Linked DNA regions of Homo sapiens. The protein of the gene in region 1 purifies or fractionates together with the protein of each later gene. This does not show direct contact. Each region holds a gene or a part of one and is shown on either strand. Other genes may lie near its edges.

What was found.
Region 2: the proteins of TMEM248 (region 1) and CEP162 purify together in Homo sapiens (affinity purification with mass spectrometry; one large-scale study listed by BioGRID and IntAct). This does not show direct contact.
Region 3: the proteins of TMEM248 (region 1) and ZDHHC9 fractionate together in Homo sapiens (co-fractionation; one large-scale study listed by BioGRID). This does not show direct contact.
Region 4: the proteins of TMEM248 (region 1) and VPS4A purify together in Homo sapiens (affinity purification with mass spectrometry; one large-scale study listed by BioGRID and IntAct). This does not show direct contact.
Region 5: the proteins of TMEM248 (region 1) and PZP purify together in Homo sapiens (affinity purification with mass spectrometry; one large-scale study listed by BioGRID and IntAct). This does not show direct contact.
Region 6: the proteins of TMEM248 (region 1) and UBFD1 purify together in Homo sapiens (affinity purification with mass spectrometry, with the first as the bait; one large-scale study listed by BioGRID). This does not show direct contact.
Region 7: the proteins of TMEM248 (region 1) and SSH3 purify together in Homo sapiens (affinity purification with mass spectrometry; one large-scale study listed by BioGRID and IntAct). This does not show direct contact.

What each region holds. Positions count from the first base shown.
Region 1 is NC_000007.14:66,945,225-66,948,724, forward strand, and holds part of TMEM248 (transmembrane protein 248), read left to right. Parts: coding exon 1-37; intron 38-3,319; coding exon 3,320-3,470; intron 3,471-3,500.
Region 2 is NC_000006.12:84,168,644-84,172,143, reverse strand, and holds part of CEP162 (centrosomal protein of 162 kDa), read left to right. Parts: intron 1-425; coding exon 426-538; intron 539-2,710; coding exon 2,711-2,816; intron 2,817-3,500. UniProt on the Homo sapiens protein: Required to promote assembly of the transition zone in primary cilia. Acts by specifically recognizing and binding the axonemal microtubule.
Region 3 is NC_000023.11:129,802,788-129,805,886, reverse strand, and holds the end of ZDHHC9 (palmitoyltransferase ZDHHC9), read left to right. Parts: 3' UTR 1-2,599; downstream 2,600-3,099. UniProt on the Homo sapiens protein: Palmitoyltransferase that catalyzes the addition of palmitate onto various protein substrates, such as ADRB2, GSDMD, HRAS, NRAS and CGAS. The ZDHHC9-GOLGA7 complex is a palmitoyltransferase specific for HRAS and NRAS.
Region 4 is NC_000016.10:69,317,850-69,321,349, forward strand, and holds part of VPS4A (vacuolar protein sorting-associated protein 4A), read left to right. Parts: intron 1-800; coding exon 801-862; intron 863-973; coding exon 974-1,093; intron 1,094-1,537; coding exon 1,538-1,694; intron 1,695-2,291; coding exon 2,292-2,440; intron 2,441-2,838; coding exon 2,839-2,920; intron 2,921-3,201; coding exon 3,202-3,421; intron 3,422-3,500. UniProt on the Homo sapiens protein: Involved in late steps of the endosomal multivesicular bodies (MVB) pathway. Recognizes membrane-associated ESCRT-III assemblies and catalyzes their disassembly, possibly in combination with membrane fission.
Region 5 is NC_000012.12:9,201,896-9,205,395, reverse strand, and holds part of PZP (pregnancy zone protein precursor), read left to right. Parts: intron 1-1,444; coding exon 1,445-1,628; intron 1,629-2,711; coding exon 2,712-2,871; exon of another isoform or gene 2,872-2,990; coding exon of another isoform or gene 2,991-3,024; coding exon 3,025-3,077; intron 3,078-3,500. UniProt on the Homo sapiens protein: Is able to inhibit all four classes of proteinases by a unique 'trapping' mechanism. This protein has a peptide stretch, called the 'bait region' which contains specific cleavage sites for different proteinases.
Region 6 is NC_000016.10:23,560,727-23,564,226, forward strand, and holds part of UBFD1 (ubiquitin domain-containing protein UBFD1), read left to right. Parts: intron 1-1,479; coding exon 1,480-1,545; intron 1,546-1,898; coding exon 1,899-2,004; intron 2,005-3,312; coding exon of another isoform or gene 3,313-3,383; intron 3,384-3,500. UniProt on the Homo sapiens protein: May play a role as NF-kappa-B regulator.
Region 7 is NC_000011.10:67,306,530-67,309,810, forward strand, and holds part of SSH3 (protein phosphatase Slingshot homolog 3), read left to right. Parts: intron 1-308; coding exon 309-433; intron 434-512; coding exon 513-584; intron 585-841; coding exon 842-907; intron 908-1,019; coding exon 1,020-1,208; intron 1,209-1,316; coding exon 1,317-1,410; intron 1,411-1,644; coding exon 1,645-1,773; intron 1,774-1,882; coding exon 1,883-1,929; intron 1,930-2,867; coding exon 2,868-3,014; intron 3,015-3,238; coding exon 3,239-3,281. UniProt on the Homo sapiens protein: Protein phosphatase which may play a role in the regulation of actin filament dynamics. Can dephosphorylate and activate the actin binding/depolymerizing factor cofilin, which subsequently binds to actin filaments and stimulates their disassembly.

The DNA.
Region 1 (3,500 bases):
TACTCAACCATCTTAGGGCATCAGATTGGACTTTCAGGTATGCAGTAGCCACTCTCCACTCAGGCTCCTTAGGCAACCACTGTTACAAAAAGAGGATGCACCGTGTATGTTTTTACTGACTATATTGTACTAGATTGTAGTCTTGCGCGTGTCTTTTTTTTGTTGAGTTTGAACTACATGAACCATTTCTGTTCCATCGTTACATGGTAAAGTACCTGGCTAGAAGTAGTTTCTCAAAAGCCTGTAGGAATGAGAAACTGTGAGAAAACTGTTAAGGCCTGTCTAATATTTACAAACATGTAATTTTAATTCAGGCTTGTCCTGTTGGAGTTTTCATTACTTACTACACATCTTCTATTGCTATTAGTTTACATATTTTTTAATGGCCATTGTTAGTCTGGCACTGTGCTAAGCTGCTGGGAAGAACTAGAAAATGACTAAGATGGCTGGGTGCAGTAGCTCATGCATGTAATCCCAGCACTTTGGGAGGCCGAGGTGGGTGGATTGCCTGAGCTCGGGAGTTTGAGACCAGCGTGGGCAACATGGTGAAACCCCATCACTACTAAAATACAAAAAATTGGCCGGGCGCGGTGGCTCACGCCTGTAATCCGAGCACTTTGGGAGGCCAAGGTGGGCAGATCACAAGGTCAAGAGTTTGAGACCAGCCTGGCCAATATGGCAAAACCCCGTCTCTACTAAAAATACAAAAATTAGCCGGGCGTGGTGGCAGGCACCTGTAGTCCCAGCTACTCGGGTGGCTGAGGCAGGAGAATAGCTTGAACCCAGGAGGCAGAGGTTGCAGTGAGCTGAGATTCATGCCACTGTGCTCCAGCCTGGGCGACAGAGGGAGACTCTCTCTCCAAAAAAAAAAAAAAAGAAGTCAGCTGGGCATGCAGGCATGGTGGTGCGCACTTGTAGTCCCAGCTACTCAGGAGGCTGAGGCAGGAGAATTGTTTGAACCCAAGACGTGGAGGTTGCGGTGAGCCGAGATTGCACCACTGCACTCCAGCCTGGGCGACAGAGCGAGACTCCATCTCAAAAAAAGAAAAGAAAAGACAATGCCTAAGATGGGCCCGTGCGCAGTGGCTCACGCCTGTAATCCCAGCACTTTGGGAGGCCGAGGTGGGTGGATCACTTGAGGTCAGGAGTTCAAGACCAGTCTGGCCAACATGGTGAAACCCCATCTCTACTAAAAATGCAAAAAAATTAGCCAGGCGTGGTGGCAGGCGCCCGTGATCCCAGCCACTCTGGAGGCTGAGGTGGGAGAATCACTTGAACCCTGGAGGCGGAGGCTGCAGTGAGCCAAGATCATGCCACTGCACTCCAGTCTAGGCAACAGAGTGAGACTTCACCTCAAAAAAAAAAAAGGCCTAACATTTGGTCTCTTCCTTTTGGAATTTTGGGGTTATGGAAGAGACAAAGATAAACGTGAGTTAATGTTTATCAAGCACTTACAATAGTTCCTGCCACAAAGGAAATGCTACGTAAGTGCTTGATAAGGGATATGAAAAAATACATACTTATAAAATGTGGAGCACTGCCCTTTGACCAGTACTAAACCCATGACAGACTGTAAGTGTTGCAGGAGAAGGGCTAGAAGGCAGTGGAAGCTGGAATAATCAGGAAAGGCTTCATATGGGACACCTGGGCCTTGGAAGAATAACCTTTTGTTCTTTGGTTACCAAAAGGCTTTTTAAAAATTGCTTAGGCTAGATGCAGTGGCTCATGCCTGTAATCCCAGCACATTGAGAGGCTGAGGCAGGAAGATTGCTTGAGCTCAGGTGTTGAAGCCCAGCCTGGGCACATAGCAAACACCTGTCTTTATGAAAAAATTAAAAAAATTAACCAGGTGTTGTGGCGTGCACCTGTAGTCCCAGCTACTTGTGAGGCTGAGGTGGGAGGATTGCTTGAACCTGGGAGGTCGAGGCTACAGTGAGCTAAGATTGTACCACTGTACTCCAGCCTGGGCAATAGAGTGAGACCCTGTCTCAAAAAAAAAAAAAAAAAAAAACAAGAAACAAATAAAAAGTCCTTCAAGGAATTTAAGTGCCCACCAGCCTCCTATTGGCTGTTAGAGGTGAGAATATTCCCATAATAATCAAGGTATGGGTGACTTCTGGGTTTTCCATGTAGCAAGTGGACCTGTTGCTTATGGCATGGCATAAGGACACCTTCGGGATTTTTTGTTGTTATTTTGAGATGGAGTCTCACTCTGTCGCCCAGGTTGGAGTGCAGTGGCACAATCTTGGCTCACTGCAACCTCTGTCTCCCGGGTTCAAGCGACTGTTCTGCCTCAGACTCCCGCGTAGCTGGGATTATAGGTTCGTGACACCATGCCCAGCTAATTTTGTATTTTTAGTGGAGACAGGATTTTACCATGTTGGCCAGGCTGGTCTTGAACTTCTGACTTCAAATGATCCGCCCGCCTCAGCCTCCCAAAGTGCTGGGATTACAGGCATGAGCCACCACGCTTGGCTATTTTTTAATTTTAATTTTATTTTAATATTTTAATTTTTTATTTTAATTTAATTTTTATTTAAAATTTTATTTTAATTTTGAGACTGGGTCTTGATCTGTCGCCAGGCTAGAGTGCAGTGGTGTGATCATAGCTCACTGCAGCCTCAAACTCCTGGGCTCAAGTGATCCTCCCTAGTACCTGGGACCACAGGTGTGCACCAGTACACCTGGCTGATTTTTAAAACTTTTTTGTAGAGACAGAATCTTGCTGTCATGTTCAGGCTGGTCGTGAATTCCCGGCCTCAAGCAATCCTCCTGCCTCAGCCTTCTAAAGTCAAAGTGCTGGGACTACAGATGTGAACCACTGTGCCTGGCAATACGTTGGTTTTAGTTTAAGCTTCATCACTTGCCTTTCTTAACTCTGAAACCCTCTGACCTCTGTTTGTTCATATGTAAAAGGGGAACAGCTGCACTTCTTCAGTCATGTTCATGGGAGAGTAGTAAATTTTAAGTGAAATAATACATATAAAAGATGTTTGAAAATGGCTAGACAGCTGTGCAGAAATGCTGGGGATAATTCACCCAGCCCGAGCTTTTCATCTCTGATCTGCCCGAGGTCTGGTTTGGCATCTCCAGGCCATGTACTGGAAAGTGGCCACTTCCTTCGCTGCTTCGTGGCTCTGAGTTGAGTAGGACTCATGGTCAGGGTCAGGACTGCTCTTCTTCCTCAGATCCCACAAAGGCAGGTGCCTGGGCTGATAGATGATTCCTGTGTGGGTTTGATTTCAGGATTTATTTGTATCCCAGAGAATGACAAGTACGTGGTTCTTGACTTTATAAAAAAATGATTTCTCTTTCATAGGCAGGGAAGCCCACGAGGAGATAAACATCACCTTCACCCTGCCTACAGCGTGGAGCTCAGATGACTGCGCCCTCCACGGTCACTGTGAGCAGGTGGTATTCACAGCCTGCATGACCCTCACGGCCAGCCCTGGGGTGTTCCCCGTCACTGTGTAAGTGTACCCGGCACCTGATGAACGTGC
Region 2 (3,500 bases), on another chromosome or scaffold:
AATCTTCCTCCAGCAGTGATTTTTTTTTTCCCCTCTCTTGAGCCAGAAACAGAAAAGAATGTAAAGGGTCTCACTGGGTCTTTCCACCCGGGTCCACACAGTCAGGATGTGGTGATTCCTTCAGCCACTCTCCCACTTACCTCCTGTGAAATGCAGTGCATTAAACTGACCTTAGGCCCTTTGGCTTTGGGAATTTTGCAAATTATTTTTTCAATTAGCCATTTTAAATGTTATGGAAAGAACTGTTTTTAGACACCAAATTTTCTTCAGATATAATATAAAAAGTTTAAAAAAGACTTTACATACGCAAAAGCTAAAGAAACTTAAAAGGCCGTTTAAAGGATTAATCTATTATGAGCACATATATTATGTTATATAAGTACTAATGACTTTTAACTAAAATGCAGTTTTCTGTTTTTAAAAAGGAAAATGAACGATTATATAATCAAGTAAAAGATCTCCAAGAACAAAACAAGAAAAATGAGGAGCGAATGTTTAAGGAAAACCAAAGTTTATTCAGTGAGGTAGCTTCCTTAAAGTAAGTCCTTTTGAACTTCTTAAAATCAAATATACTTAGACTATTTCAAGCATTTTCTTATTATGTTAATAATACATTTATTTTTACTTAGACATAGTAAAATTTTATTTTTATTTGTACACATTTCCAATTTTATGTTTAATACTCAGTGGATTTTTCTTTTGGTGTTAGATGGCCAGCACATACTTGATAGTATTTTCAGCATATTCATATTTGAATTCATATGAATTTATGTTCATAACTGATTCAAACATCAGTTTCAGGAAATTGAATATATAGTATTCCTCTTGATCAGTCATTAAGAATGAGATAATTAACCATTTCCCAAGGAACCATTTGATTAATAATACTAAAAAAGAATGGTCATACAGTATCACTTATGATCTTCTTGGGTCAGGTTCCATAGAAGCAGAGCCTGAGATGGTGGAGGTCCTTGTGGAGATGATATACTGAAGGATAACTCCCAGGAGAAGGGAGCAAGGGAAGCAGGAACGGTGAGGTAGGGGGAGGGCAAATAGTGGTCTCAGCTGGAGACTGGCTTCATTCTCCTCCCAAGAAGCTCTGGAGAATAAATTGTACCAGAGTTGGTCCCTGCTTGAGGCAAGGGGGCAGCCTTAGTCACTGGCCGGAGTGTACTGTGGAAAGGAGTAGGGGCTGCCCTTTATGCCGGGTCAGGGGCTGCGGTTTAAAGGAGCACCTGTAAGTTGTTTTCAGCCAGCATTTATCATGGCAGGGTTATGGAGCACCAGCACCTACTTAGGAATCATATTTCAGACTATAAGGTCTTTTGGACGTTACTGCTTCCAACTTTAACATATTAAGTGAAAAAGCTGGGCCCGTGAACATGGACAAGCTAGCATACTATCTTCTTTTAGAAAATGACCACTATTTGTGTATCTTTTTATGTAAACACCTAATCACTCAGAAAGGACTGTTCTCAGAAGTTTCTGACCCATGAGTATCATGAATGTTTACTGAATTTATTTATATACTTCTCCCCCTTTTTGGTTATATAACCTAGGGCCTAAGAGGCAGGGCTGCTAATAATAGCTCATACTGATCTGTCAGGCAAAATAGAAAAAGACACACTTGGTAGCAGACTATATATATATATCCTCTTTCTCCTTGTAAGTTGGTAAGTGTAACCCCAGGCCATGTGTGATAATCTGCACAGTGGTAATGCATGAATGCATTTACTTACGCTTTTTTTTTTTTTTTTTTTTTTTTTTTTTGAGACGGAGTCTCGCTCTGTCACCCAGGCTGGAGTGCAATGGCGTAATCTCGGCTCACTGCAAGCTCTGCCTCCCAGGTTCATGCCATTCTCCTGCCTCAGCCTCCCGAGTATCTGGGACTACAGGCACCCGCCACCATGCCCGGCTAATTTTTTGTATTTTTTAGTAGAGACAGAGTTTCACCATGTTAGCCAGGATGGTCTCTATCTCCTGACCTCGTGATCCACCTGCCTCGGCCTCCCAACGTGCTGGGATTACAGGCGTGAGCCACCGTGCCTGGCCTACTTATGCTTTTTTTCCCAGATGTTTCAGTAAAGTTATTTTAAAATATCTTATCTTGTACTACTTGGCTTCTAAAAGAAGATCTATCCCAGGATCCAAAATTGAAGCTGTAAATTAACTTTCAGAATGAAATAAATGGTTTCTTTAGTACATTAGGGTTAGATGATCTTATGTGGAATCCAAAACTCCTTCTATAATATCTCTGGAATAACAGGAAAATTGAATCTAAAGTCCAGATATTAGGCTGTGTTTGGTTTTGTTTGTTAGTTTCCATGTATGAGACTGGCGACTCTCAGAAAAGATTCTAGAACAATATGACAAGGACTGCATTAACAACCCCACAGAAAAATGCAGCGCATCTTTGTAGACGATTAATTTTTTTCCTCTGAGAATTGGGAATTAATATTTTTATATTATAAATAAACCAATAATCTTAGGTTTCAGTTCTTTTAGAATAGATATAAGCATTTCCCTTAAAGTATATTTCTCTTTTAGTATGGTAGTATTTTAATCTTTAGATTAAATGAAAATTTTACCTTCATTTATGCATACAGTTTCAATGTATGTTAGTTTTTAATTTTTAAGAATTGAATATTTTCTACTGAAAGGAGCACCTGGTAAGAAAGAAAAACAACTTTTTATTTTCAAAATAAATTAGAGAACAGATGCACAAAAGTCGTTTTCTGTCTCAAGTAGTTGAAGATTCAGAGCCCACAAGAAATCAGAATTTTACAGATCTGTTAGCAGAACTACGGATGGCACAGGTAAGTTGCATAACGATTTTGACTATTAGGGATAATAAAGGTTTTATAAAAATCCCCATTTTTATACAAATTTTTATTAAAAAATTACATAGAAATGTATTAAAAAATCTATAAATTTCATACCATTTAAAACTTAGGGAGAAATATCTTAAATTAGCATATAGTATGCACATGACCTTAGTATAGAGGAAACATTATATTACTGTTTTTAGATGTCATTGTCTTTATGATTCAGCCTCTCATCAGGCATTTGTCACATCTCATCAGGTGCATTTATCATAGAGCCATATCAGAGGCATGATTTTATTTAGGACATGTATACCTTATTTCAAACAAATTCCTTATTTGAAAGCGTGCAGCCTAAATAGTGTAATTTGGAGATAATTATTTACCTTTAAAAGTTAGTAGCTTTCTACCTGTCTTCCGAAGTAGACTGCACTTCTAGAGAGCAGAGACTGTATCTTACAAGTATTTATATTCCACATACCTAACATAAAGTTGAAATGCAATGCTGTTCCATAACTTTTTTATGTTTATTAAATTGTATTATAAAGAATATGGCCTAGAGTTTTCTAAAGCAGTATTTATCAATAGAAGGAGTTTGGGAATTTAAGGCAGGGTAGTTCTATTTTAAGCAGAAGTAATTCATGCACTGCATGATTTTTATCATCCCTGTCCCTAAGA
Region 3 (3,099 bases), on another chromosome or scaffold:
GGGTCAGAAGATTCTCCTGGCCACCAAGTGCCAGCATTGCCCACAAATCCTTTTAGGAATGGGACAGGTACCTTCCACTTGTTGTATTTATTAGTGTAGCTTCTCCTTTGTCTCCCATCCACTCTGACACCTAAGCCCCACTCTTTTCCCATTAGATATATGTAAGTAGTTGTAGTAGAGATAATAATTGACATTTCTCGTAGACTACCCAGAAACTTTTTTAATACCTGTGCCATTCTCAATAAGAATTTATGAGATGCCAGCGGCATAGCCCTTCACACTCTCTGTCTCATCTCTCCTCCTTTCTCATTAGCCCCTTTTAATTTGTTTTTCCTTTTGACTCCTGCTCCCATTAGGAGCAGGAATGGCAGTAATAAAAGTCTGCACTTTGGTCATTTCTTTTCCTCAGAGGAAGCCTGAGTGCTCACTTAAACACTATCCCCTCAGACTCCCTGTGTGAGGCCTGCAGAGGCCCTGAATGCACAAATGGGAAACCAAGGCACAGAGAGGCTCTCCTCTCCTCTCCTCTCCCCCGATGTACCCTCAAAAAAAAAAAAATGCTAACCAGTTCTTCCATTAAGCCTCGGCTGAGTGAGGGAAAGCCCAGCACTGCTGCCCTCTCGGGTAACTCACCCTAAGGCCTCGGCCCACCTCTGGCTATGGTAACCACACTGGGGGCTTCCTCCAAGCCCCGCTCTTCCAGCACTTCCACCGGCAGAGTCCCAGAGCCACTTCACCCTGGGGGTGGGCTGTGGCCCCCAGTCAGCTCTGCTCAGGACCTGCTCTATTTCAGGGAAGAAGATTTATGTATTATATGTGGCTATATTTCCTAGAGCACCTGTGTTTTCCTCTTTCTAAGCCAGGGTCCTGTCTGGATGACTTATGCGGTGGGGGAGTGTAAACCAGAACTTTTCATCTATTTGAAGGCGATTAAACTGTGTCTAATGCAAACTTCCTGCCTCCTCCTTCCCCCTTCCATTTCAAGAATATGTTTGTGTGTAGGGTGGGGGTGGGGGTTGGAAGGGGTTGCTTGTTACTCCCCAAACTTCCATTAACCAGGGCACCCTTGGGTTGGAGAGGTAGTTCCAAACTCTCCATTGATCTATACTACATTCTGGGCTGAAGGTTTTCTTATTCTGGACTATGAAGAAAGGACTTTCAAGGAGATATAGTGTGAACAGGATCAGGAAGGTAGAGGGATTATATTTACTTAAGAGAACAAGCTCTATATTAGGATATTGTTTTGAAGCAGATGGATGCCGTTAATTGCTAATAAGTCTTAGTTATTAACGCAGGCTCATCAGGGCCCCCCCTTGGAAATATTTGATCAGTGGTCTTTTACAAGTGATGGTATATATTTCTTTCTAGGTGGTGTATAATCAAGACTCCCTATCAATTCCCATCTCATACTTCCCAGTTAATTGGAATTAATGAAATTTGGCTGCTCCCAGACCTTTTTCCATGTCTTCCTTTTTCCTTTTAACAGGATTTAAGTTGAGCATTCTTGAGAGAGAGAGAGAGAGAGAGATTGGAAGAGAGATGGGGAGAGACTGACTCAGATCCCTCTCCTGTCTGCTTCTTTTTCTGGTTCTCTCAGTTTTTTTTCTTGAAGTTATAAAGCCAAACCTGGAGAATTTGTAAGTTGTTAGGTTTCCCCAGGTAACTTGGCACTCATATGAACCCCATTTTAATAAGTACTCAGCCCATCTCCTCTCCTGGGCTCAGATGGCTCTCTCTCCTCCCTCACCTTACCTCAAGTGTTCTCCTGAGGACCCTTAGGTCAGACAGAGAAGCTTTCTCTTTCTGATGGGAAGGGTCAAAGTGGAAATCTCTTATCTCTAGTGTGAAATGATTTTCTGCTTTTTCATACTCCCTGCCCTCTTTCTTTTCCTTAATAAATCTTCCATGTTTAAGATGTTGGCCTGAAGATCTGTCCCATTCATACCATGCACCAGCTGGGACTGTCCCTATCTGATCAGAGGGGAGATTAAAGAATCAATGTTCCCAGGGGAAAAGGGCCTTAAATTGTTTGGTCTTTTCAATGGCTGACACTGTCTCCAACTCTCCCCTTCCTCCTTCTTCCTCAAGCTTCCTATGCACCCTACTTTCCCAGGCCAGGATGGTTGGCACTGATCCCAAACCTCTGGGGGCAGGTGGAAATTGGCTGTGGTGAGCCATTTCTTCATGTCCATTCAGCTCTGAGGCCTTCCTGGCCCTAGCTGAGATCATCATCTCCTCCTTTGCTTTTACCCCAGGAGTGAGGTTGGGTTAGAGGTGGATTCTGATTCCGTAGCAGCTAAATTCCATTCTCCCTGTCCTGACCATCCTGCCTTTACCCATAAAGCACCCGTTCCTACTGACCAAATCTCTTTACTTTGTTGGAGAAAAAAAGTATTTTGTTTTTAAATCTATTTTCTAATTTAAATGCAATTTAATATGTAAATCTCTGCACTTTTGTGTGAGCCTACAAATGTGTATGTGTTGGGGGTTTTTCACTCTCTGGTATTTCTTAATAAAGAAATCTTTCTTTTGGGGGGAAGCCAATTAATGAAGGAGCCTTGAATGGTTTTAGAAATACAGGGCTGTCTGTTTCTTTGTGCTTCTGCCTCATTTCTTTACTTGTGCCTAGTGTGAGTGATTGGACTCCCTCCCCCACCTTTTGACCCCCTTCCTCTGAGAGGGCCCTCAACTTAGTGGGGGCAGAGAGAAGGACCTGTCCTGTATCTGGTACCCCTCTGGGACCACTTGGATTGGCTCTAGTAGTAACCTAGCAACCCAGCCCCCTCCCCTCTCCCCATGGCCTGGCCCTGTTAGTCCTTTTCTTCCAGCTCAGTTCATTTTATACTCCTGAGTTGGGGCCAGGCCAGGGGAAATCACCAAGGGAGCACAGTAAATGGTTTTAAAAAAATGATAATTCGTTCTCATGCCTTGGTGCTACTAAAGAAGAGTCATGTTCCCAGTAATTCAAAAAGCATTTGTGTCAGTTTGGAGAATACATTCTAGGAATCTCTTGCTGTTCTTGGTGATAGGCTTTAGAAACAGTGTCAAAGGCTACAACTCTGAATATCATTTGTTTTAAAGGATGCAAGCCCAGCTCAC
Region 4 (3,500 bases), on another chromosome or scaffold:
GCTGACGCCAGAGAATTCAGAGAATTACTTGAACCCGGGAGGCGGAGATTGCAGTGAGCTGAGATGGAGATTGTGCCATCGCACTCCAACCTGGGCACCATCTCAAAAAAAAAAAAAAAAAAAAAAGAAGCTTCTGGCAGCTGCATTGTTTGACTGGCTTTTTTTTTTTTTTTTCCCCCAGACAGGGCTTCACTGTCTCCCAGGCTGGAGTGCAGTGGTGCGATCTTGGTTAACTGCAACCTCTGCCTCCCAAGTAGCTGGCACCATAGGTGCGTGCCACCATGCTTGGCTAATTTTGTGTTTTTTGTAGAGACAAGATCTCGCTGTTTCCCAGGCTGGTCTCAAACTCCTGGGCTCAAGCGATCCTCCCGCCTCAGCCTCCCAGAGTGCTGGGATTACAGGGGTGAGCCACCGCACCCAGCCTGGGCTGTGAGAGCCACTGCAGGTGGCCTCCCAGAGTATGAGGTGTGAGTCACCGCACCTGGCCTGGGCTGCTCTTTAAGTCCAGCTGAAGCACATTTCCCTTACGGCCTTCAGGAGAGGGCCGACCCGGATTCCCATCTGCTCCGCGAAGAAACAGGGCGGGTTATAGGAGTGTTTGCTGGGGGGGTCCTGAAGTGAGCTGCTGAGAGCATTGGCCCAAATGTCCCTGAAGTACTTGCTTGAGTCACACGGCACTGTTAAGCCAGGAAGGCTTCGTTCCTTAACCAGTGTGCAGGCAGCGGAGCCTGGACTTGCTGGGAGCACCTCTGTGCTCCAGGCTGAAGGGCCAGCTTGTGACTTTCCGTCTCCCTTCCCAGCAGTGACAGTGACAGTGAAGGGGATAATCCGGAGAAAAAGAAACTGCAAGAACAGCTGATGGGTAAGTGGCTCGCGGCCCTGTGGCAGCGGCAGGGGATGAGAGTGGGTCCGCTGCTGGGTTGGCTCATGCCCCTTGGCCGGGCCCGGGCCCGGGCCGGCCTCCCTCTCGCAGGTGCCGTCGTGATGGAGAAGCCCAACATACGGTGGAACGACGTGGCCGGGCTGGAGGGGGCCAAGGAGGCCCTCAAAGAAGCTGTCATTTTGCCAATCAAATTCCCACACTTGTTCACAGGTGAGAGTTGAGCCATTTCAAACCCCAATGTAAAAATTCCAGGCTTCCGCAGGGCTGGCACTCCGAGGCACCCGGGAGTCAGTGGCGACTCAGCCCCCGGGGCCTGCAGAGGGCCAGGCCTGGCTGCTCGCTGGTGTCCACAACACTGCTGTGGCTGGAGCTATGAGATGACGATCACGTCACAGGGTGGGGGCAGGATCAGGAAGCAGTGCCAGCCGGTGTCACTGTGCAAGGTCATGGGGTCATAGCAGGGGCACTGTGCAAGGTCATGGGGTCATAGCACAGGGCACAGCAGGGAATGTAGCTCCCATCACTTGTTTGCCAGTAGAGTCCGTTGTTTCACAGAATGCCCTGTTTTACTGTATGTATGGGACTCGAGACCCTCTGCTTTTCCTATTCCTTTCCCCAGTCAGGAGGCCTAACTTCTGTGGTTCTCTGTTGCAGGCAAGCGCACCCCCTGGCGGGGGATTCTGCTGTTCGGACCCCCTGGCACAGGGAAATCCTACCTGGCCAAAGCCGTGGCAACAGAGGCCAACAACTCCACCTTCTTCTCTGTGTCCTCCTCAGATCTGATGTCCAAGTGGCTGGGGGAGAGTGAAAAGTAAGTCGGCCACCAGGCCATGCTCTGCCAGCAGCCCCGGCACTGCTAGTGACCCAGCGGCCCACCCTGTGGAGTCACCTCTCAGAGGAGTGGTTTGGTTTTCAGGGAGGGTACCCAAGAGCAGTGTGTCGCTAGCTTATCGGCTGGGACACAGTCCCAACAAAGACAAGTGAAGGTGGAAGGGACCTGGGAGAGGTGAAGTGCTCCACAAGAGAAGGGAAAGGAAGTGAGGATATTTTTGGGGTCTGGGTTGCGGTCCCTGTTGGGGCAGTGTGTGGGGGACATGGTTCCCCACACTGACTCCTGTTTTGCGTGTGATGAGACGGGCTCGGAAGAAGGGGACTGACGTGTTGTAAGTGCAGAGCTAGCGCATGGGGCTCCTGGGATTGAGGCTCTGCGTTTGGGGCTGACACCAAGGTGTGCTCCTCCTCTTGGTGCAGTGTGGCCCGAGGGCTCCTCACCACCACGTTTTCCGCAATTCCGGCATGACCGTGGCCTGCGCCTCCCTGTGGGAAGGGTGAGAAGAGGGAAGTGCCGGGAGCCCAGGCGGGCACGGACGTGAACGTCTTGTCCTCACCCCCTTTCTCACCTTCACAGGCTGGTCAAGAACCTGTTTGAGCTGGCCAGGCAGCACAAGCCCTCCATCATCTTCATCGATGAGGTGGATTCCCTCTGCGGGTCCCGAAATGAAAATGAGAGTGAGGCCGCCCGGAGGATCAAAACGGAGTTCTTGGTCCAGATGCAGGGTGTGTGCCGGGCCCAGGGCCCCCTTGGTTCTTGTTGCACCTGAAGCCAACCCTGGGCTTTATTCTGAGCTGCGGCTGGATTTGGTTGTTCTCAGCCTCGGAGAGGCACTCCCCAGCTCCAGCCCCTCAGGGCACGGGTGGACTTCAATTCCCAAGAGGTGCCTGAGGCCTCTGCCTCACGGGCCACTCCACCCCTCCCATGGCAGGCAGTGCCATAGGTCTCACCTGGCACAGCCAGACCAAGATGTGGTTTAATCTCACTTGGGACCCTGCCAGTGGTGGGTGGCACAGGGATGGCTTCAATTGCTGACACACAAAGCCCCCGGGGTCTGTCCCCAGGTTTCAACTGACCCGTGCAGGTGTCCAGAGTCTGAGTCTTTGTCTCCCTTTCTCCACAGGGGTGGGGAATAACAATGATGGGACTCTGGTTCTTGGAGCCACAAACATCCCATGGGTGTTGGATTCGGCCATCAGGAGGAGGTGAGTCTTCCCCAGGAGAAGCCAGGGCTGGAGGCTTCCTCCCACCATGGTCACGGTCCGCCTGCTGCTGGCAGCCCGGGTGCAGCCTGGCCCCTTTTCCCTGGAGTCTTCCCGTCTGCCTGCCAAGCAGAGCCCTTTGTGAGGCTGGCTTGTTGAGGATGTGCCGCCAGCATCACTGGCCCATGAAATGCGTCCGTTTCACTCAAATCTTCGTGCCTCCCCTTCCGTGAATACCATTCCATCATCCGCTGTCAACTCCTGCCGTGTGCTGGGCTCTCTAGGTTTGAAAAACGAATTTATATCCCCTTGCCGGAGGAAGCTGCCCGCGCCCAGATGTTCCGGTTGCATCTCGGGAGCACTCCCCACAACCTCACGGATGCAAACATCCACGAGCTGGCCCGGAAGACGGAAGGCTACTCGGGCGCGGACATCAGCATCATCGTGCGGGACTCTCTCATGCAGCCCGTGAGGAAGGTGCAGTCGGCCACACACTTCAAAAAGGTGAGTGCCCGCGGCCACTGCTGAGAAAAATCTCATAGTAAGAGCGGGATGTTCGGTTTTTTTTTTCCCAGCTCCTGGT
Region 5 (3,500 bases), on another chromosome or scaffold:
TGGCAGATGCTCAAAAACAGCAACAACAAAAACACATTCTCTTTCAGCCCATGGGATTTCAGAGTGTGGAGAGATTATATTGAATTGGAGGCTTCTGGAAAGTGACAGGAAAATATGGAGTGGGGGGCATTAGAGACAAAGGACACTCATCAATAAAGCTAAGGCCAGAATGTGAGGCTTACACAAAAAATTGCCTGTGCCTCTGAAAAACTGAAAACTTTCAACAATTTAAATAAAAAAGAAAAGACTTTTCAAAATAATATGACTTTTAGTACTCATATAAACTTTGTTTTGTTTTTTTTTGAAACAGGGTCTCACTCTGTCACTCTGAAAGCACTGGTGCAATCATAGCTCACTGTAGCCTCAACCTCGTGGGCTTAAGTGATCCTTCTTGCCTCAGCCTCCTGAGTAACTGCTACTACAGCCATGTGCCACCTGGCTAAATTTTTTATTTTAATTTTTGTAGAGATGGGGGACCTCACAATGTTGTGCAGGCTGTTCTCAAACTCCTGGCCTCAAGTGACTCTCCTGCCTCAGCCTCCCAAAGTGCCGGGAACTAGGTATAAGCCACTTCTCCCAGCCTGAACCTGTTTGTTTTTTTTTATTGAAAAGATAACCTATCCACCCATGTGATTCGAAACAAACATGTTTATAAACATGGACATACTAATATTAAATTATTAATGTTAATTGCCTCAAGAAATTGAGCATAAAGGGAAATGATAATAAAATACAGTGTGTGTTTGTGTAGTGTGTGTGTAGCAGGGAGTTGTGCATGTAAATAATTGACAAAATTTTCAAACTCGTTGATAAAATATTGACTTTGACTGAGCTGTATCTGAGGAGCCTAAGAGAAACAGCAAATACTTTTTTTCAGTGTTGCTGATATTAAGAAAATGATTTTGCAATATAGACATGTGTTATTTTGTGTAATGATATATGCTTACTGAAGTTCTTTCAGTTGAATTTCTGTAAATCTAGTCACGGTGTTCATTCCAAAGTGATGTTTATCTAGACAGATTTTAATGTAAGTCCTTTTTACAATGAATAATCACTCCCAATTTTTTATATATGTGTGTGTGTTTGTGTGCGTGCACTTTTATGGATATATATTCAAGAATTCAGATTCTTTTTAAAGGTCAAAGTTAAAGTTTAAAGAGCTCAGACTGCTCTTTACAGCAAGGAATGCCTGTGAAATTGTAACATCTTGGAAAGCAATCTCCAGTGTTGTATGGCTCCAGATTGTGTGGCTGAGGCATGGCTGATGAGTAAAAGATAAAATTTTTGTGCTGATCTGTGACAGAACCTCCATTGACTTAGTCCATTGACTTTTAGAATAAAACTGATTGCACCAATTAATACATATTGTTATGAAAACACATTTATGGATGAAAACGCTTACTATCATCAGTTTTTCTCTAATTTAGACTTCTTCCTTTCCCAGGCAGTATATGGTGCTGGTCCCCTCCCTGCTCCACACTGAGGCCCCTAAGAAGGGCTGTGTCCTTCTGAGCCACCTGAATGAGACAGTGACTGTAAGTGCTTCCTTGGAGTCTGGCAGGGAAAACAGGAGCCTCTTCACTGACCTGGTGGCGGAGAAGGACTTATTCCACTGTGTCTCCTTCACTGTGAGTGCTACGGTGCCAGCTGGCTATCCCTGCTTGATACATTTTATTGAGCTCTATAGGTCATGGTGATGGAGCTCTGGTGTGCGATCCCAAGGTATGACTTTAAGAATGTAGTTAGGACTTCAGGGGCCAGGTGCGGTGGCTCACGCCTGTAATCCCAGCACTTTGGGAAGCCAAGGCGGGCAGATCACGAGGTCAGGAGATCGAGACCATCCTGGCTAACAAGATGAAACCCCGTCTCTACCAAAAATACAAAAAATTAGCCGGGCGTAGTGGCAGGCGCCCGTAGTCCCAGCTACCTGGGAGGCTGAGGCAGGAGAATGGCGTGAACCCGGGAGGCGAAGTTTGCAGTGAGCCGAGATCGCCCCACTGCACTCCAGCCTGGGCGACAGAGCGAGACTCCGTCTCAAAAAAAAAAAAAAAAAAAAAAGGAATGTAGTTAGGACTTCAGAAAGGACTAAAAATAGTGAGTTTTCAACTATTAAGGAACAAAGCATTTTTTACCAGAGTAAGGAAGAAATACTCTTCTAAATTTCATTCCTAAATAATAATCCTATTGCCCACAAAAATTTCATGACTTAGAGGAGTTTTCTAGTTTTGATTGTAACTGTCTCTTTAAGGATCGGGCTGGACATTTCCTAGAAATAGATCATATGAAAATTTCATGATAAAAACTTTGCATGCAACATAATTTTTTGCACATGCAGGATACCCTAAGCAAACACCTAGTACCTCTTTAAAGTTGCCTAACTTGGGAAACTCAGCTCCTATGCTCTCCCATATTTTTTCAGAGATGTTTCTCTCCATTGCTTCAGAATATACATACTCAGTTAAAAGGCATCTAATTTAATAACTAGAGCTCTAGGTGAACTCCATGGAGATCTGGGTTCTATTGATGGCCACTCTTACTGATACCATTCCTCCATCTCACATTAATATCGTCACTCTTATGTCTGAAGAAATAGTCACACCTTCCTTCTCCTTGGTGAAGCTGAAGGAGAGATAGGAAATAGCAATGACTGAAGAATGCAGAGGGAGAAGACTGCACAGTTCCTCAGTAGTAAAAAATCCTTTGCTTTTTAGCTCCCAAGGATCTCAGCCTCTTCAGAGGTGGCATTCCTTAGCATCCAGATAAAGGGGCCTACGCAAGATTTCAGGAAGAGGAACACAGTTCTGGTACTGAACACCCAAAGTCTGGTCTTTGTCCAGACAGACAAACCCATGTATAAACCAGGACAGACAGGTAAGTAGGGAAATTCCACTGTTTGGGGCAACACTGAGAAGGGCCACCTGAACAGCCAAAGTCTCCATTATCCTAGCCCCGTAGCCTCCTGTCTTATTACCCAAATTACCTGCTTTATCATGTCTGAATCTTATCGGAGAACTACTTTTCCAGTAAGATTCCGTGTTGTCTCCGTGGATGAAAATTTTCGCCCTCGAAATGAACTGGTAAGCATCCACTATCTGTGGTTTGGGTTGTGGGTAGAGTGGGAATACTCACCCAGAGTGAGGTAGAAAGGTACAAGAAAAGCGAGAGGATGAAAGACACTTGTTTTTGAACTTGGCTCCAGCCTCAGCACAGATTTGCAGTCTTATACAAAACAAAAATTGAGGGACAAGAGATGAGGAAGTTCTTTCTCTTATAACAGTATTTAATCAGTCTGGCAATAGCTGCATTTGTTACTCTGAACACACTGCATTAAGAATATTAAAGAAGCATAGAAAAAAGGCACTATTCCTATTCATACTTTCAAGGAATTTATGATTAAAAAAGCAACACAGAATTATGCTTTTATGAATATATAGGTATATACAATAGACCATATTATAATTTTATTATATATTCGATACATATAGTATAGAAATATATTA
Region 6 (3,500 bases), on another chromosome or scaffold:
TATCTTTATAAAAATTCCAAAACCCTGAAAGTTCAAAACTCTAGGGTTTCAGATAAGGGGTTATAAACCTATATTAATTATCTAAAAGGTGTTGATTTGGAGACTTCACCCCCACATATGGGGTCTCAGTGTCTTGAAACCGATTGAGTTTCTTCTCATATTCCTGTTTTTCTTTGCCACATGTATGAAATAGTGAAATGTGAGCACGTCAGATAGGAGTGGTCGCAATGGTCACACCCTTGGAGCATAACATGCCTCCTAAATACAGGTTTTTAGTTACTAATGGTAGCTTAACAGGCTTAGAACTGTTCTCCACAGTACAGGAAATCTTGTTCAAAAGGTACTTGAAAGGTGTGACTCGAATTGTACTTCCAGCCCATGCTGCTGTGTTTCATTGAGGCCAATTATGATGCATCACATGACCTAATGAGAGGGATATAGTCCCTTGCCTTTTTACCAGCTTATTAAGGGGTCTGGGGGTGATGTCTGGAGTGACTTTTTGCTAGCAGTCTGGCAGTGCTGAGTTTATTCCTCCCAGAGGGATTCCACCATGCCAGTGAGGATTTGGGCTGGCTTGTGGCTGCCTAGTGCTTACATTTGATTAAATTGTTACCTTCTATCCATTCATTGTCCCCTAGTTCCAGCCTTCCAAGCAGTGGCTATGCCTATAAGGCCACAGATGGAGAAGAAAGAAGACTCAGGCATTTGGGCCAGGCAGGAGAACTGTTTAAGGGGCCCTGAACTTAGAATCCTTGAAGAGCTGCCTCAGAGTTCTTGGGGCAGGTGGTAGGGGTGGAGTTTAGAGGCTTCTTAATGTCAGGTTATAGAGTAATAAGCATTTCTTTCTGAAAGGTGGCTCTTCCAGGTTCCTGTTTAGCTGGAGTTAAGGGTAGGGCAGTGGGGAAAACTTCGGCGATGGGCTGGGTCTCCATTTGTTGAAGAACTGCTCCTCCTAGGCAGTTAGACGGATTACCAGCATCTTATAGTGTTCTCTGGAAGTTTAAGTTGAAAAAGGTGGGTGCCATTTTTTGTCTGCTAGGAGAGCAACACCCTTTGTCGCCCTCTTTAGTTTGATGGTTTAATCATTTCAGTGGTGATTTTTTTTTTTTTTTTTGAGGGGAGGAGGGCAATCTGGAAATCCCGTTTGCTGTAGAACTTTGATATCTAATATGGTAGCTATCCACATGTGGCTGGTTAAAATGAAATTAAGAATTCAGTTCCTCAGTCATAGTAGCTGCATTTCAAGTGTGTAATAGTCACAGCAGTAGGTAGTGGCTAGCACAGGTACGAACATATTCGCCCTCCCAGAAAGTTCTGCTGGACAGCACTGTGCTATAGTTTCAAAGGATCCATAGTCTGTCGTCATTAAAAGCTTTTGAGCCAAAACACTAAGGCTTTCTTCATCCTCTCTTTCAAGGGAATAGTAACACGACGAAATGTAGTCAGCTGTTTCATTTCATTCTCTCTTCTGACTTATAGCAACACAGGAAAGTGTTGGATAAAGGAAAACCTGAAGATGTGATGCCATCTGTTAAGGGGGCCCAGGTAAGGCGGATTTCTTTGTGAGCATTCTGAAAATGAGGCAGCCCCACCGTCTGACTTGAGGTTCCTCCAATCCTGTCCCTTCTCTTTTTTCCCTGTTTTTTTTTTTTTGAGACAGAGTCTTGCTCTGTCACCCAGGCTGGGGTGTGCCACCACACCTGGCTAATTTTTGTATTTTTAGTAGAGACGGGGTTTTACCATGTTGCCCAGGCTAGTCTCCAACTCCTGACCTCAGGTGATCTGACCGCTTTGGCCTCCCAGTGTGCTGGGATTACAGGCGTGAGCCACCGCGCTTGGCCCCCTTCTCTTTTTTTCTGACTGTCCCTCCATCTCTTACCATTCTCTCGTGCCTTCAGGAGCGCCTGCCAACGGTACCGCTGTCCGGCATGTACAATAAATCTGGAGGAAAAGTGAGACTCACCTTTAAACTAGAACAAGACCAGCTGTGGATTGGCACTAAAGGTATGTTCTTCCTCGCCTCCTTGCTGGCCCACTGCCTGCCTCTGGCACCCAGCAGCACTCACATTTTAGAGTGCGATTTCACCCCTCCTTCTGAAACCTCTCTCTCCACTGTGCTTTGCTTGCTTCTGGCTTTTAAATTTGCTTTTAGATGCTCGCCTTTTGTTTGGACCGTTTTCCCTCATTGTTTTCAGTCTGATCTTAGGGCTGATCCACCAAACAGTGGCTCTTCAGTTGCACACAGATTTGGGGGTCCCAAACACGTGGCCCAAGGGCCAAATCTGGTCCACAGAAAAATGTTTTGTGGGATGACACACAATCTGTAAAAATTGGGAGATTTCACTAATCTGATTTTTTTTTTTTTTTTGGCTTCTCTTGAAAACTCAAATGATCTGGCCCTTTGGGGCCTGCATTCTCACATGGCATCGATCCACTAGAGCCGAGTGGTGGTTTCCAGTGGGCCATACTACAGTCTTCATGGTCCCATTTATCTTAGAAGTAGCCAGCTTTGTTCATTTGTCACCTGCCTGGCCCCTGTAGGTCAGAGTTTGACCCTATAGTAGGTGAAGTTTTCCTAACCGCTGCCGAGGAATCTGCCTCTCCCTCCCCGCCTGGTTGCCCTCTGCCTGCCCCACCCCCGCCTGTGCACGGTGTCTGGATCAGCCTTGCTGTTTGCTGGGAAGTGTCTCTGACTGTCCTCCCTCTCCCTTCCCCCAGATGGTTACAAAGTCTTGTTAGTTACACTGCAGAACTGTCTGTCCCTTTCTTTGCCACACTGTTGTGCCAGTTAAAGTTCCCAAGCATCTTTAAACTTGGTCTGTTCAAAGCGAGTTACCCTGTTTCACTGCCCCATCTGTGTTTTCTTCTGTCCTGTCCATCTTACCTACTGCTTTTTATCCTGGGTACCCGTGCTCAAGGACCTTTGGCTGTTTAAGGACACATTCAAATGCCTAACCATAGCGTTCAGTGTTCTCAACACTGGGCCTTAGTTTAAATTTTGGTTCCAGCTTCTGGCCCGTTTGCCCTGTGGTCCCCTGTGTATTTTAGCCGCATCTCTCTGTGAAGCTCCCAGTGTGCTTTGCACAGCTCCTTGTCTTTGCTCATGCTGTGCCCTTACCTGGAATGCCTTTTTCCCATTCCTTGTTATTAATAAAATCTTCCAAGGCCCTACTTAAATGTCCTCTCTGAATGAAGCCTTCCTTGATTCTCCCCCCACCCTCCAAATGACTTGCTGCCGCTTCTGTTCATAGAGCGCTTCGTTTATATCCCCAGAGCACTCATTACTCTCTGACTTGTCTGTCCCCCTGTTAGATTCCTGGAGGGAACCGAACATGCCTAAATCACCTGTTTCTGACCAGCACTGTAGGTATTCAGTGTTCGAGGTAAATGCTAAAGAGAAGTATAGGGGGTCCCATCATCTGACGTTCACTGGTTTCAGGGACAGACCATTTAGTGAGACTCCACTTAAAATGGGACCAAGTTTTATGGAGAATAATTGG
Region 7 (3,281 bases), on another chromosome or scaffold:
GTTCGGGGCTACAGTGAGCTGTGATGGTGCCACTGTACTCCAGCCTGGGCGACAGAGTGAGACCCTATCTCAAAACAAAAACAAAAACAACCTCCTTCCTCAGCAGAAACAAAAAATGTGCAACCTATGTCAGTCCCATTCCCCGCTTTTTTCCACACAGTCCCTCTTTACCCACTGATTTTACATCTGGGAAGAGGGGGGATGGGAGAGGAAGGAGCAGGGTCAGCACTGTTCTGGGCCTGGGGTGTCTAGGTGGGGAGCAGGGTCCTTGGGGCCACTGTGACCCTGGGTTCCTCATCTCCCCCCAGGCAGCCCAGCTGGAGGCACCCCGGCCTCCCCGGCTCCGCTACCTGCTGGTAGTTTCTACACGAGAAGGAGAAGGTCTGAGCCAGGATGAGACGGTCCTCCTGGGCGTGGATTTCCCTGACAGCAGGTTCGAGCAGGGAGAGGAAAGGAGGGGCAAAGAGGTGAGGGACAGGGGGGACAATGGCTTTCCCTCTGTCCCCTGCCAGCTCCCCCAGCTGCACCCTGGGCCTGGTCTTGCCCCTCTGGAGTGACACCCAGGTGTACTTAGATGGAGACGGGTAAGCAATGGCAACTGGAGGTGGGGGCTGGAGGGTGGAATAACTGAGTGTGACGGATGTGACGGGGCCTGGGCACCAGGGTACAGTAGAACTTTAGGCTGGGACTCTGGGGCCTGCTCCCAGCTCCACGTCAGATTCACCGTGATCCTGAGCAAGGCACCTGACTCCTGGGTCTCGGCTTCCCGTATCCAGCAAAAGGATGGGTTCTCTGTCGCAGAGCCTGGAGTCTGGCCTCACCTGTGCCTGGTCTCCTGCAGGGGCTTCAGCGTGACGTCTGGTGGGCAAAGCCGGATCTTCAAGCCCATCTCCATCCAGACCATGTGGTAAGGACAGAGACTGCCTGGACTCAGGCCAGCCTCTCCTTCGAAGGAGGCTGCAGGGCCTGGGGAAGGGCAGCAAGGGAACAGTGTGACCCAGCCTCTCCTCCTGTCTCAGGGCCACACTCCAGGTATTGCACCAAGCATGTGAGGCAGCTCTAGGCAGCGGCCTTGTACCGGGTGGCAGTGCCCTCACCTGGGCCAGCCACTACCAGGAGAGACTGAACTCCGAACAGAGCTGCCTCAATGAGTGGACGGCTATGGCCGACCTGGAGTCTCTGCGGCCTCCCAGCGCCGAGCCTGGCGGGTCAGTGTGTGGAGGGGAGGGACTGGGTGGAGGGGAAGGCAGGATAATGCAGTGGGGGGCATGGTGGAGAGGGGAAAGGGCCCCTTGACTGAGGGGCTCTGCTCCCAGGTCCTCAGAACAGGAGCAGATGGAGCAGGCGATCCGTGCTGAGCTGTGGAAAGTGTTGGATGTCAGTGACCTGGAGAGTGTCACTTCCAAAGAGGTGGGCAGGGGGCCCGGGGACTGAGTCCCCTCTAGCAGGGGCTGCAAGCTTGCCTTTCCTGGGAGCCCTCCCCACCTTGCCTGTCTCCAGTCCTGAGCCATTCCTGGATGCCTTGGCCTTGGCCCTAATCCATCTAGATGGGATAGGGTGCTGTCCTCAGAGGTCCCAGAGGGAAGGTGGCAGGTTGGGCACTAGGAGAGCCCCAGCCTCTCTTGCCCTGGGCTCTGCCTGCAGATCCGCCAGGCTCTGGAGCTGCGCCTGGGGCTCCCCCTCCAGCAGTACCGTGACTTCATCGACAACCAGATGCTGCTGCTGGTGGCACAGCGGGACCGAGCCTCCCGCATCTTCCCCCACCTCTACCTGGTGAGCTTCAGCCAGGCCTGGGCCATGGGGACCGCTGGCAGCTGTGAGGGCGGCAGGCCAGGAGCAGAGGCTGGAGGAGAGGAGAAATGTGCTGTTCCCTCTCTCCCAGGGCTCAGAGTGGAACGCAGCAAACCTGGAGGAGCTGCAGAGGAACAGGTAGGGCTATGAGCCCCTCGGGCCACCCACCCCATCTTCCCTTCTCCTGGCCTCCCCGCATTGGGTGGTAGCCAGCTTCAAAAACCCCTGGACCACCCTCAGCAGCTGCTAGCTCTGCTTCTAACTCTGTCCTGGGGCTGTTGCCCTGGTGTGGGCTCCCAGGTGGGGACAGGAGACCTGCTGGCCAGCCCCCGCCCACTCTCCTCCCCCATCCACACTGTGAAACAAGGACAGAAACAAAGGGCCTCAGCCACGCCAAGACGAGAAGCAGCAGCGCATACTGCTGTAACTGCCTTGGACAAGCAGAAAAAGGCTCCTCTTGAATGCGCCTGTGGGCCCAGCTACTTGGGAGGCTGAGGCAGGAGGATCGCTTGAGCCCTGGAGATTGAGGCCGCAGTGAGCCGTGATCACGCCACTGCACTCCAGCCTGGGCAACAGAGAGAGACCCTGTCTCTAAAAAATAAGAAAAAAGAAAGAGAGAAAAAGCCTTTTCTCCACCTTGCCCTGTCTCAGGGAAGAAGGAACTGCCCTTCTCCCCGTGGGGACCTGGCTGCCTGCTCTGACAGGTACCTGTCATCTGCCCACCATGGGCTTCTGGGACCTGCTGTAGCCCCTGCCACCCACTGCTGCAGACCCACCCACTCTCAGCTTAGCTCAAAAGCTGTTCTCTAACTCATTTCTGAGAATAACTGAAGGGCTGGAGTTGCAGTTGGCCCAGCTGTCTGGACCAGATGGGGAAACAAGCCCAGCAGGGCAAGATGATTGGTCTAAGGTCGCAGCCAGGTGACAGCTGGGTCACTTCTCCTCCCACTGTCACTGCTGCCTCCATCTGACTTGAAACTCAGAGCTAAAGCGAGGCCCAGGGGCTGCCAGGTCCGATTGCCAGTGGGCCTGGTACCTCTGCCCACATCAGCCTGGCCTTGGGCCCTCTGGGACAGGGTCACCCACATCTTGAACATGGCCCGGGAGATTGACAACTTCTACCCTGAGCGCTTCACCTACCACAATGTGCGCCTCTGGGATGAGGAGTCGGCCCAGCTGCTGCCGCACTGGAAGGAGACGCACCGCTTCATTGAGGCTGCAAGGTCGGTCTCCTGGCTTTGCTGCCTGCCCCACTGTGGCTTCAAGCGGCCTCCGGTGCCCTCCTCCTGCCCACTCTGCCATCAGCTGTGCCATTCCTTCCAGCCCTCAGTGTCCTTCCCTCCTTCTCTACTCTCAGTTGGTTGTGAGCCCTTCACCTGCCCTCCCCTGCAGGAGGCGGGATCCTTCATGGTGAGGGGAGGGTGCTGAACCTGGCCTGCTTCCACAGAGCACAGGGCACCCACGTGCTGGTCCACTGCAAGATGGGCGTC